Regions from separate parts of the Homo sapiens genome. Here region 1 is linked to region 2. The links come from fine-mapping of genetic effects on gene expression. Tissue or cell type: whole blood. Region 2 holds a variant in brackets; the other region holds the start of a gene. All regions are shown on one strand. Distances are from middle to middle.

Region 1 (2,754 bases), 110 kb before region 2:
CCGTCCTACATGAGATGGGCAGTGGAGGGCCAGGACAGCAACTCCAAGCCAGTGTAGGTTTTGGAGGTAGACAGTGAGGAGGCTTGCTTCTGTCCTTTGTTAGCTGAGTGCCCTTGGACAGCTTACTTACCTACTCTCAGCCTCAGTTTCCCCATCTCTAAAATAAGGCTACCAATACCTACCTTCTCTGGCCATTGTCAGGATGAATGAAAGAGCTCTGAAAGTATTTCTGTAATTAGCAGACATCAGAGATTGTTATTCTCCAAGGTAAGAGGCCCCCCTAGATCCCTGGCGGTGACAGTGTCAAGATTCTTTTTCCCTCCTCTGCGGTGCCCACTCCTTTTCCAGCCTTGTGGCTGGCTCTCATCCTCCTTTCCGCAACCCCCCACTCCTCCTTGGGACCACCTTGGCGGGCCCAGCTTCTCGCAGCCTGCCATATTCCATAGGTGCCCCCATTCTAAAACCTGTAGGGGTGCCCTGCACAGGCGCACGGTTGGTCGAGGTGGGACAGGTGGCGGGGGTCTCCACTGGCCTGCGTCCGCGCCCCCCACCCTGTTTAGGAGTTCCTGTTTGGAGATGGCTCCCCCTCGTCCTCAGCTCGTCTCTGGGCTAAGCAGGGGAGGAGAGAAATAAAAGGTGGGGGGCCTGGAAGGGGGTTCCCACCTTCTCAGTCCGGGACGCGAGACGGGAACGCAGCCCTGGCGCCCCAACGCTGCACCACCGTGGGTCTCCGAGCCGTGCTCGCAGTCGCTGAGATCCTCGGTGCGGAGAAGATGTGCCCCTCCAATCCCCAGGCCGTGATCCCCTTCACCCAGACCCGGCCAATCCCTCGCCCGAGGCGAGCGGGAGGATGCGGTTCTAGGACCCGGAGGCGCCGCCGAGCGCGCCGCCGCCTCGGCCTCGCCTCGGTGGCCTCCCGCTCCGGCAGGTGAAGCGGCGCCGGCCGCCCCCTCTGCGGCAGGTGAAGCGGCTCGGCAGCCCACTCCCCGCCCGCCATGGTTGCGGGGGTCCCCCGGCCAGCGCCCGCCCCCTCCCTCCAGCCCGCCCCCCTGGGGCTGGGTGCCCGGCGGCGGCGGCGGCGAACTGCGGTTTGCGCGCACGGGGAGCGACAGCAGAAGTTCGAAAATCGCCGAGGGGGGAGCCAGCGCCGCAGCTTCCTGCCCCCGGCCCAGCCCTCTGGCCCCGGCGGCCTGCAGCCTGACTTCCTCCCCCAACCCTGCAGCTCGCCGCCCGGTCCCACGGACGGGGCCGCCCCGATGGGACGCCGCGCTCCGGCCCCTGCGCGCCGCTGAGCCGAGCGCCCCCCGCTGCCGAGACCCCCGCCGCCACCGCCAGCCGCTGCCCCCTCGCCCCCGCCCGGGCCGGGAGCCTCGTCCCCGTCCCCCGGAAAGCTGGATTTCCGAGGCTGGAGGCGCCTGGCCGGCTGGGTGGGGACCACCATGGGCAACGCGGCCGGCAGCGCCGAGCAGCCCGCGGGCCCCGCCGCGCCGCCCCCCAAGCAGCCCGCGCCTCCCAAGCAGCCGATGCCCGCGGCCGGAGAGCTGGAGGAGAGGTTCAACCGCGCCCTGGTGAGTGCGACCCGGAGGCGGGTCGGGCGCGGGCGGGGGGCGGCAGGGGCGCGGCAGGGGCTGGGCGCGCGTCCCCGCCCCCGGGGACTCAGGTGCCGCTTGGAGATCCCCGGTCCGGCAGCTGCCCCCTCCAGGAGGTGGGAGCGACAGTGGCCTTTTTTTCAGAGTGACTTAGCACTCTCCCCCCAAAACTTTCTTCAGTTATCGCCCGGTCTCCCTCCCTAAGACGCCTCCACCCCAGCTGGGTCTTAAGGTCTAAACAAGTATGTCCTGTGAAGAAGTTGGGAGCGGGGCACGCACAGGGGTCCCGGGTCGCCCCCTTCCCCACTGCACGCAGGCCCAGCCACCGGGCGCGGGTCTGGGGCATCTGCCTTTCTGTGTCTGGAGTCAAAGATGAAAGGGTTACAACCTCCCGGGAGCGGGAGACCTGCTGGAGGTGTTGGGTCCTGATTTGTTGGGCGCCTGGGCTGCGGGGAATGGGGTTGTCGGATCATGGCCAGGAGGTATCTGTGTTTCTACCCCGCCATATGTCAGAGCCAGGGTGCCTGTGGGTCTTTATCTTGGGGCATCCTTTCCAAGCCACTGAAGGGAGTAAGATGAGGGAGGGTGGGGTCAGGACGGGTGGGTCGCCCAGGCTAGGGGTGGAGCAAAATCTGGAACCACCCCCCTCTGTGCCTACCTGGGGAATTGGAGCGGGGTCGCTGGGGAATAGGTCTCTGGGAGGGAACCAGCAGCTCAGGCCGAGCCTGGAAACAGTCAACATGTTCAGTGGGGTGGGGGCTCCAGAGCAGACTCAGGGGTCTCCAAGACCCTGCATAAGGCAGAAGTAGGGAGAGGAAGAGCTGCTCACTCTCACTCTCCCCACCCCCGACGCCCTGGCCCTGGCTCCCTCCTCTAACTAATTGCCTGGTGGCCTGCCTGCTGTCAGCCTTCCCTTGCTGGACGCTGGGTGACAGGCAAAATGAGGCTGTGCCTTCTCCCAGATGCATTTCCCAGTCCCTGCAGGTCTGAGGGTGGGGGCTCAACGGAGACACAGGCCGCAGAGGGTTCTGGCTCAGTTGGTGGCCCTCCATCTCCTTGACATCATTTCCCCTCGCCTGGCTGGTCATTAGGCCATACGTGCTAGATCCTCAGCATGGCTCCAGAGGGTCACCTCCTAACAGTTCCTGAAAATGTTGGCTTCTGT
Region 2 (2,754 bases):
GCTTTCACGCAATCCGTGCCATCTGGACAGAGCTTTACTATAAATCACAGTTCCCCAAAGGGAGGCATGTGGTTCCCGAGGGGTGCACTAGATGATGTGTGGTGGCCCACAGCTCTAAGAAACATTGGATCTCATGCTGAGCTAGTTATTCTCTAATTCTTTTTTAGATTTGTCTATTTCTTGAATAATTGATGCATGCGGTTTGTACAAATTCCAAAAGAGCATGCTTCTCCCACCTCTGGCCCCAGGCTCTTTTTTTCTTTTTCTTTTCTTTTCTTTTCTTTTTTTTTTTTTTTTGAGATGGAGTCTTGCTCTGTTGCCCAGGCTGGAGTGCAGTGGCTCAGTCTTGGCTCACTGCAACCTCTGCCTCCCGGGTTCAAGTGCTTCTCCTGCCTCAGCCTCCCAAGTAGCTGAGATTACAGGCATCCACCACCAGGCCCAGCTAATTTTTGTATTTTTAGTAGAGATGGGGTTTCACCGTGTTGGCCATGCTGGTCTTGAACTCCTGACTTCTGGTGATCCGCCCATCTCGGCCTCCCAGAGTGCTGGGATTACAGGCATGAGCCACTGTGCTTGGCCCCCAGGCTCTTTTGAAGCAACCATTCTCCCATCCAGGTACCAACCAGGCCTGACCCTGCTTAGCTTCCAAGATCAGATGAGATCGGGCGTGTTCAGGGTGGTATGGCAGTAGACGAAGCAATCATTCTTACCAGTTCCTTGTGTATTTTTCCAGATGTACTTCAGCATGTGCAAACGATACATTCCTATAGCCTCTTTCTAAAAAGTTAATGGAAGCATACTATCCACAACTGCCCTGTACCTTGCCTATCTCACTTATCAGTGGGTTCCACATCATACATATAGAACTGCCTCCTTCTTTTATAAAGACTCATGCTATTCAACTGTATGACTGGTATATAATTTACCCAGTTCACTGTTGATAGACTTGTTTCCAACCATTTCCAACCATTATAAGAATTGTTGCAATAAATATCCTTATATGTATTTCATTTTGCATATTAGTTAATCCATGCGTTCCACAAATATTTTCCGAACACCTACTATGCACCAGGTCAGGTCTAGGCACCAGAGGCAGAGCAGTGAACACAATAGAT[G/A]GAGTCCCTGCATCATGGAGCTGCCATTCTGTAGTGGAGAATAGCCATAGGATTAACTACTAGAAGTGGGTCACACTTTCAATTCTTCTAATTAAGTCAAGTAGAAAGTCTCACTTTGGTGCCAATGTGTCTTTTTTTTTTTTTTTTTTTTTTTTTTTTGAGACTGAGTCTCGCTCTGTTGTCCAGGCTGGAGTGCAGTGGTGCAATCTCGGCTCACTACAACCTCCACCTTCCCGGGTTCAAGTGATTTTCCTGCCTCTGCCTCCCGAGTAGCTGGGATTACAGGTGTGTGTGCCACCAAGCCCAGCTAATTTTTGTATTTTTGGTAGAGATGGGGTTTCACCATTTTGGACAGGCTGGTCTCGAACTCCTGACCTCAAGTGATCCACCGGCCTCGGCCTCCCAAAGTACTGGGATTACAGGCATGAGCCACCGCACCTCGCTGAGTGCCGATATGTCTTTAATGTATCTCTCTCTGACACTTGTAAATTTCTTTAAGACAGAAAGTGCTGGCCTTAGGTTTAGAGTGTATGACAGACCACAGAGCCTAGCTAGAGTTGAATAACAATGTTTGGTTGTTACTGGATTTATTTCTATATAGCAAATGTTATTGATTTTCCATCTATAGTCAAAATATGAAGGTTCCCTTTAAAATACGCAGGTTCCTTTCAAAATAATTTTTTAAACTTATTTTTTATTTTATTTTATTTTTTTGAGGCAAGGTCTCTCTCTGTCACCCAAGCTGGAGTGCAGTGGCACCATCATGCCTCACTGCAGCCTCAACTTCCTGGGCTCAAACAATCCTCCCATCTCAGCCTCCCAAGTAGCTGGGACTACAGGCATGCACCACCATGCCTGGCTAATTTTGTTTATTTTTTGTAGAGACAGGGTCTCACTATGTTGCCCAGGCTGGTCTCCAACAACTGGATTCAAGCAATCCTCCCACCTCAGCCTCCCAAAGTGCTGGGATTACAGGCATGAACCACCGTGCCCAGCCTCAAAATAATTTAAGTAAAAAAAAAATGAGTCAATATAGAGAAGAATGTTAAGTAAATTAATAACATAGGTGGAATTCAGATGTGGAAAAAACCCACAAAGGTGATAGTCAAATGAGTGAGGTTAGGAAATCATCAAATTAAACAAAGCAAGGAGAAAAGGCTAGGCTTATTATATTGTATTTTATGTTTATTTTTGTATCTTCACTCATCTTTCATGTTGAAACATTCTCACCTCCATAATTCTTCCTAGGCAGCTGATTTGCTTATCATTTATTATTGTTTACTACTTATTTGGTGATTCTTATACTTAGATTTCCTGGAGTTCCTGGTCATGAAAATTTTGCTTTGTGGGTTTTTTTTTTTTTTTTTTGAGATGGAGTCTCGCTCTGCCACCAGGCTGGAGTGCAGTGGCGTGATCTCGGCTCACCACAACCTCTGTCTCCCAGGTTCAAGTGATTCTCCTGCCTGAGACTCCCGAGTAGCTGGGATTACAGGTGCATGCCACCAAGCCTTGCTAATTTTTGTATTTTTAGTAGAGATGGGGTTTCGCCATGTTGACCAGGCTAGTCTCGAACTCCTAACCTTGTGATCCGTCCGCCTTGGGCTCCCAAAGTGTTGGGATTACAGGCGTGAGCCACCGC

What was found. PIP is the estimated chance that this variant, and not a neighbour inherited with it, causes the effect.
Region 1: it holds the start of FMNL1-DT, and the variant in region 2 is fine-mapped to the expression of FMNL1-DT in whole blood (TOPMed, PIP 0.98).

Annotation. Positions count from the first base shown.
Region 1 is chr17:45,220,686-45,223,439 of GRCh38, forward strand. It overlaps FMNL1-DT (FMNL1 divergent transcript), which reads right to left and starts at 1,080. Exons shown (of 3, transcript NR_147507.1): 1 at 664-1,080. It overlaps FMNL1 (formin like 1), which reads left to right and starts at 1,200. Exons shown (of 27, transcript NM_005892.4): 1 at 1,200-1,568. The coding sequence starts at 1,440. RefSeq lists silencers at 775-1,224, 1,235-1,284, 1,565-1,674, 1,597-1,891 and enhancers at 1,738-2,238, 2,239-2,739.
Region 2 is chr17:45,326,805-45,329,558 of GRCh38, forward strand. It overlaps the pseudogene RNA5SP443. Among named protein-coding and RNA genes, the nearest start is that of MAP3K14, 11 kb to the left of the region's middle. The variant G/A (reference allele first, on the strand shown) is at 1,116.